Linked DNA regions of Homo sapiens. The protein of the gene in region 2 interacts with the protein of the main gene of each other region in a pairwise test. Each region holds a gene or a part of one and is shown on either strand. Other genes may lie near its edges.

What was found. The genes of interacting proteins can lie anywhere in the genome.
Region 1: the proteins of FXYD6 (region 2) and GPR42 interact in binary tests that used the Homo sapiens proteins (3 or more experiments, as listed by UniProt).

The regions. Positions count from the first base shown.
Region 1 is NC_000019.10:35,369,367-35,372,966, forward strand, and holds GPR42 (G-protein coupled receptor 42), read left to right. Parts: upstream 1-1,701; 5' UTR 1,702-1,752; intron 1,753-1,982; 5' UTR 1,983-1,993; coding exon 1,994-3,034; 3' UTR 3,035-3,596; downstream 3,597-3,600. UniProt on the Homo sapiens protein: G protein-coupled receptor that is activated by short chain fatty acids (SCFAs), such as propionate. Hence may play a role in the regulation of whole-body energy homeostasis and/or in intestinal immunity.
Region 2 is NC_000011.10:117,869,871-117,873,815, reverse strand, and holds part of FXYD6 (FXYD domain-containing ion transport regulator 6 precursor), read left to right. Parts: intron 1-3,945. UniProt on the Homo sapiens protein: Associates with and regulates the activity of the sodium/potassium-transporting ATPase (NKA) which catalyzes the hydrolysis of ATP coupled with the exchange of Na(+) and K(+) ions across the plasma membrane.

The DNA.
Region 1 (3,600 bases), on a different chromosome or scaffold from region 2:
CAGAAAAAAACATATAATAAAATCCAACATCCCTTCATGATAAAAACCCTCAAAAAACTAAACATCGAAGGAACACACCTCAAAATAATAAGAGCCATCCAGGACAAACTCACAGCCAACATCATACTGAATGGGCAAACGTTGGAAGCATTCCCCCTAAGAAATGGAAAAAGACAGGGATGCCTACTCCCACTACTCCTATTCAACATAGTAGTGGAAGTCCTAGCCAGAGCAATCAGGCAAGAAAAAGGAATAAAAGGCATCCAAATAGAAAGGGGAAGTCAAATTATCTCTGTTCACTGATGATATGATTCTATACCTAGAAAACCCTACAGATTCCTCCAAAATACTCCTAGACCTGATAAATGACTGGCAGTTTCAGGATGCAAAATCAGTGTATAAAAATCAGTAGCATTACTATATACCAACAATTGTCAAGCTGTGAGCCAAATAAAGAACAGAATCCCAATTACAATAGCCACACACAAAAATAAAATACCTAGGAATACATCTAACCAAGGAAGTGAAAGTGAAAGATCTCTACAAGGAGAACTAAAAAACACAAATAAATGAAAAACATTCCATGTTCATGGATTAGAAGAATCAATATCATTAAAATGTCCATACTGCTCAAAGCAATCTACAGATTCCACCCAATTCCTACCAAATTATCAATGTCATTTTTCATAAAATGGAATCATTCTACCAAAAAGACACCTGCATGTGTATGTTTGTCACAGCACTATTCACAATGGCAAAGTGATGGAATCAACTTAGGTGCCCATCAATGGTGGACTAGATAAAGAAAAAATGGTACATACACATCACGAAATACTATGCAGCTATAAAAAAGAATGAAATCATGTCCTTTGCTGCAACATAAATGCAGCTGGAGGCCTAAGTGAATGATCCTAAGTGAATTAACACAGAAACAGAAAATCAAATGCTGTATGTTCTCACTTTTAAGTGGGAGGTAAACAATGGGTACACGCAAACATTAAAGATGGAAACCATAGACAGTGGGGACTCCAAAGTGGGGGAGGGAGGGCGGAGGACAAGGGTGGGAAAACTGCCTATTGGGTACTATGTTCACAATTTTGGTAATGGGTTCAATAGAAGCCCAAACCTCAGTATTATGCAATATACCCATGTAACAAACCTGCACATGTGCTCCCGAATCTAAAATAAATATTTTCAAAAAGCAATTGACCTATATTATTAACATTTTAATCTACCTGTATATATGTTTTAATCTGCATGTGTTCATGCTTTGAAATATGGTACAGGTACTATGACAATCCCTGTTCTGTAGGGGAGGAAGAAGAGACACATCTCTTCCCCCACATCACAAAGTCAGGAAGGAACAGACCTCACGGAGTCCAGTCTGTCACTGGCTCATGCTTTGTGCCCTTAAAAGGCAAACTGGATAAGTGCCATTCTAGAGAATCAGACAAAATTCAAGTGGAAGAGAGGGGAGGGGAAGAAGACGTCAGCTGGGGCCTGTTTGGAGCATCCCAGCTGAGGCTGCGCAAGGAGGGAGGCACGCAGTTGTGGAATTTGTTCCCCTTTTTGCATACTGACCAGCCCTGGCAACGGAGCTCAAGGCATCTTTGTGCCACTGCTCAACAGTGAGTGATGTCATGGGCACGGCCAGGTCTTTATCAGTTCTGCCGGATAAATAGCCAACTGCACTAGGTCTGGAGAGACAGCAAGGTGCTGTGCGGCAGAGCATTTGGGGTCTCAAAGAAGCAGGTGAGCCTGGGCCCGAGGGGCTGGGTGGAGGAGCACCTTGGTGCTTCTCTGCTGGGGAAGGGACAGGGGACAGGGCATGCTCAGGAAGACAGGCAGGCTGACCCCGCCTGGAAGGCACCCAGAGACAAGAGGGGTGGGCGTAGTGACCTCGTGCCCTTTTAGGGGAGATGCTGCTGGCCAGAGGCCGTTAGGGCCCCCACTACCAACTCCATGTTACTCTCTCTCACCAGTGGCCACCACCATGGATACAGGCCCCGACCAGTCCTACTTCTCCGGCAATCACTGGTTCGTCTTCTCGGTGTACCTTCTCACTTTCCTGGTGGGGCTCCCCCTCAACCTGCTGGCCCTGGTGGTCTTCGTGGGCAAGCTGCGGTGCCGCCCGGTGGCCGTGGACGTGCTCCTGCTCAACCTGACCGCCTCGGACCTGCTCCTGCTGCTGTTCCTGCCTTTCCGCATGGTGGAGGCAGCCAATGGCATGCACTGGCCCCTGCCCTTCATCCTCTGCCCACTCTCTGGATTCATCTTCTTCACCACCATCTATCTCACCGCCCTCTTCCTGGCAGCTGTGAGCATTGAACGCTTCCTGAGTGTGGCCCACCCACTGTGGTACAAGACCCGGCCGAGGCTGGGGCAGGCAGGTCTGGTGAGTGTGGCCTGCTGGCTGTTGGCCTCTGCTCACTGCAGCGTGGTCTACGTCATAGAATTCTCAGGGGACATCTCCCACAGCCAGGGCACCAATGGGACCTGCTACCTGGAGTTCTGGAAGGACCAGCTAGCCATCCTCCTGCCCGTGCGGCTGGAGATGGCTGTGGTCCTCTTTGTGGTCCCGCTGATCATCACCAGCTACTGCTACAGCCGCCTGGTGTGGATCCTCGGCAGAGGGGGCAGCCACCGCCGGCAGAGGAGGGTGGCGGGGCTGGTGGCGGCCACGCTGCTCAACTTCCTTGTCTGCTTTGGGCCCTACAACGTGTCCCATGTCGTGGGCTATATCTGCGGTGAAAGCCCGGTGTGGAGGATCTACGTGACGCTTCTCAGCACCCTGAACTCCTGTGTCGACCCCTTTGTCTACTACTTCTCCTCCTCCGGGTTCCAAGCCGACTTTCATGAGCTGCTGAGGAGGTTGTGTGGGCTCTGGGGCCAGTGGCAGCAGGAGAGCAGCATGGAGCTGAAGGAGCAGAAGGGAGGGGAGGAGCAGAGAGCGGACCGACCAGCTGAAAGAAAGACCAGTGAACACTCACAGGGCTGTGGAACTGGTGGCCAGGTGGCCTGTGCTGAAAACTAGGTCCTCCGGGGGAGGAGGGTGTAGCTGGCGTGTCATCCTCAGGGCGCTTCCTCGCTCACGCCAGGAGGGACTTGGAGTGGCGAGCTGGGGCCCGATGGGGCTTGGGGGCAGAGTAGACATCTAGCCTCCCTAAGGGTATGCGCGCTAAAGCCCAGCTCTCGATCTCACCTCCATCCCCATCCACCCACACACTATGGATTGGGCTCTGGGAAGGGGTCAGGGTGAGAGGCTGCTCTGGAGAACAATGAGGTCCTCATAGCAGCAGGCAGCTCCTGTGTTTTCTTGAGGGTGGCAGAGGAGCTAAGAGCAGTGCCCAGGTCTGAGGGGGCTGCCCAGTGAGTGGCAGGGGCAGGAGAGGGGAGAACCCCATCCTCAGAGCTGCTCCCAGCCAGCGAGTCAGGAGCGGGGGAGACAGGGCTCCAGGGATGAGGCCGCATTCTGCTCCCACAGTGCCTTTTCCAGAAAGTTCCCATTGCTCAATAAATGTGGATCATCAGAGACATTTATGAACAATGACAGAAGAAAAATTACCCAAATAAATGTGGAAGCAAGCAAAAGAGAACAGT
Region 2 (3,945 bases):
GGGGAGAAAGGGCAGTTTCCTAGACCCTGGAAATTTCCCGACAGCCTCGGGGGAGTCCACCCACCGAAATCTCCCCTAAATAAGAGCACCTCCTCTCTTCCTCCCAACCTTGTTGGACTTAGTCGGCCGCCATCTGGATGGCAGACTGTGCCAGGCAGCCCCCCAATATTCACCTTCGAACAAATCACCTTCTGAGCACCCTAAGGGAAGCAAACCAGTCAAGAAAGGCACAGCCCCAAGGAGGCAGGGAGCCTGCTGTGGAAAGGCCGGGTTCTAGCCCCAGCTCTCCCCCTGAGCTTCCGTGCTACCGAAAGGCAAATGCGTTCATTGCACAAATATCCCTTTGGATGCAAACTGGGCTTCTGGTGAAATCCAGAAATGGCTTGGACTGCTCTTCAGCAACTGAAAGCCTTTCGGATTTTAGACCTTTGTTTCCGCATCTGTCAATAGTGGGGTTTAGACTCATGATTTCCAAGGCATGTCTTCCTCTAAATTTGTGTGGATTATACAATCTTGAAAGAGATCCCTTTTCTCTCCAGGTACCAAATAGTACTCATTATTTCATAATACAGGGCTGCAGCTGAGCTGAGCTGAGCAGGAAGGGGCTGGGCTCTGGTTACCCTGGAGAAAGTTTCCTTTTCACCCAGTGTGGCAGAAGGTGCCCTAGAAGCTGAAACCAAGTTTTTTTCTTTAGGGCTGAGGGAGCCACCTCCTCCTGGATGCTGTGGTCTACCTGGCCTTTTCTACCAGGCTGCACACTGGAGGCGGGCGGCGGTTGGGGGGGGTTCTTTAAAGAGTTGTTCTCTGGAAGAGACAACTGGAGAGGACTGGGCTGTCATTTTGGAGGTCCATGAAATCTTCTGCAGGGAGAACCCCTGGCCAGCTGGAGAGTTGCAACGAGAGGGGCCGGTCGGGAACACAGTGCTCTGACACCGTCCCTGATGAGAGGCAGGACATCTCCGGCCGAAACAAAAGCATGGAACCAATTTGGCAGCATCATCTCTGCTCCAGAATCCGGGGAGGGAGAGGTCCCGACCTGGGAAGGGATGAAGCCAGCTTGTAGGCTGCGCAGGAACATGTTTGTTACAAAGATGTGGGAGGGAGCACACAGCCTGGGAAAGGGGCTGGGCCCCCACGGACCAGGCTGGGGCCATGGGAATGGGGCTGCCCCAGCTCAGAATATCTGATGTGGGCAGAGAGGGCCAAGGATGAAGGGGTGTAGTTAGAATAACAGTGACCCCCACGCAGCTGGAGGACAAAGCCAGGCCCACACTGAGAGACCAGAGGCTAAGGTTTCAAACTCCCTCGTTCATCCTTTTAATAAATGTTCCCCTCATATGTCAGGCAGGCCCTGTGGGCTTCTGAGGTTTCTCCTTTGCTGGAGCCCTCCTGCTCAGGTAGATCAATGGGCTTGTCCTGTTCCTTCCTCTCCCCTACTGTCCACCTCATGTCCACATCCTACCAGGAGGCCCTGCGACTTTCTTCCTCCATAGGAAGAGCCCCTCCATGCAATCACGGGTGCACTTACACTCTCACACACGTTCCCTTCCTCACACATATATAATCTCCCACACCCGACAGGGAGGCAGTGGCTCACACATTCTCACACGCCCTGTCACCTCTCCCGAAGAGCTGCAGTCTCTCAGACCATGGTGATGGCCTGTGAACGTCCACCCTCTCAGCCCATTCCATTTTACCCACTGATGTTACAGCTCAGGTCCAGGTTTGCCACTCCTCTGCTCAAAAACCTCCCCAGGCTCACCAGTGCCTATTAATAAGCACAGGTACATGGTGTAGGCACTCCAGGCTCAGCGTGACCTGGCTGCAGCCACCTCTGCAGGCACCTTCTCCAGATGGTCATCCGAAGCCTGGTACTGTCTCACCCTCTGCCTGAGCTCAAGCCGTTGCTGGAATGTGCCGAGTAGAGGGTGGCAGTCTTTGTAGACACACAAACTTGGATTCTAAACTGCATTCTGATGCTTCCTGGATTTCTTCACTTTGCTAAACCTCAGTTTCCTTACCTGTCAAATGAGTGTGAGGACAGTATGAGGCGAGCTGTGTAAAGGGCTCAGCATGCTGCCTAGCATGGAGTAAACACTCAGGAGATATCAGCTGCTGTAATAATGATAGTAATGACACATTATTAGGATTATTAGAATGGCATTATTATTGTTATATCATCCTTCGTGGCTCCTCCCAAGTGTTTATTCTTTCAAGTAATTATTCCATATTCCCAATAAACAGGCATTAAAATTCCCAATAAACATACTCATATACCGTGAATGTCCTGTCAGTTCTTCCTTGAGAGCACACACCTGCATTTTAGCTGCAGAGGGACACGCCCCGCCTCCCACCCCGCCCGCTCCACTGCACCGCCTCTCAATGGCAGGTCTGTTCTCCCCACGGTGCCTGGCACAGTGTCAGACACGTGGAGAAAGCCCAGTGAACAGCGTGTGTGCTGTGACACGCATGGGGAAGAGTCCTCATCACCAGGAGGTGTAGACACCTAGTCGCCCTTCCCGGCTGTCTCCCATACGCCGGTGCACACCACGCGTTCCCAAGATGCACATCCCTTTATTACCGTGCGTCACCTCAGTCTCCCACTTGCTTTGGTAGAGTCTAGAAACTAAGAATTTGACCCCATCTGAGGTCTGAGAGATGCTTAAAAGCTGAAGTCAAAGGAGAGAGGCTGATTCCTCACAGCATTTTGGTAGTTGGGATTTGACAGAGACACAGAGATTAGAAATGAGGCAATGGAGGAAGGAGGATACCGAGAAAGTTTTAAATGCCTGAAAAATTCCCTACAGATCCTTTGGTTGTTCTGAGCTTAGAATGGATTTGATGTAAAGGGATAATGATGCTGAAGCGTCCTTTCATTCACACATCAACATTTATTGAGCAGCTGCTGTGCTCAGTGCCAGGGATCCAGAGATGGCCAGAGTGTGCCTGTGCTCCCAGGGAGCTATGGTGTGATGGGGGCATACACTGGTGACAGCCCTACATGGGAAGGGGTGTAGGCCTTGGCTCTGTGGGTATGAGGATGCATTGAGGGGAGGGAGGGGATAATGTGTTTCCTGAAACAGAGACAGAGTCAGGTCAACAGCCCCCTCCTCTAAAGGCAGGGCACATTTCTGGGTATCCAGGCCCGTGGGTCAGGGTTCATCTTCATGCCACTTCTACCCCTAAAAGGGAGACAATATGAAATTGTGCAAAGTGCCCTGTAGGCTGAAACATGCAGGCCAGAGCTGTCCTTCTAAAGAGGTAGGCAGAGAGAGCAAAGGGGGCTGCCTGGTGCTGTGGCCTGGCTGTGGGCAGGGTGGCGTGGGCCTGGCTTCTGGGTTCCTGGCCCTGGCAGCTGCTCTGGGTTTCTGTGTCTGCTGCTGGGACTGCTGTCTGTCCTGTCTTGAATGGGCCTTTGTCAGCAGGTGTGTGGGGGAGGTGATCCCATCCTGGCCTGACTCCATCACGCCCTGCTGGGGCGTGCAGCCTGCTGGGGCCCCAGCCTGTGGCTTCTGTGCAATACCACTCACCATTCAGACTCTCTGGAGCCAGACCGAGATCTCCTGGGGAACCAGAGGGGCCTCAGCCCCTGTGCTGGCAGGCAGGAGGCCTGAATCCCACTCTGACTCCCTCTGGGCAAGGCGCGGCATTGGCCTGTGCCTGAGTTGGCCTCGCAGTACTGTTCTGTGTTTCTGCTTCTGAGGGCTGTTGTGAGAAGTCCATGGGTGATGGCTGGGATGCCACAGTGTCACGGTTGTCAGTGATGGTGAGGTGACAGCAAGACCTGGGAAGGGGGCTGGGGCCCCACGGACCAGGCTGGGGCCCAGAGAATGGGGCTGCCCCAGTTCAGAATATCTGATGTGGGCAGAGAGGGCCAAGGATGAGGGGATGTGATTGGAATGACAGTGACCCGCATGCAGCTGGAGGACAAAGCCAGGCCGGCAC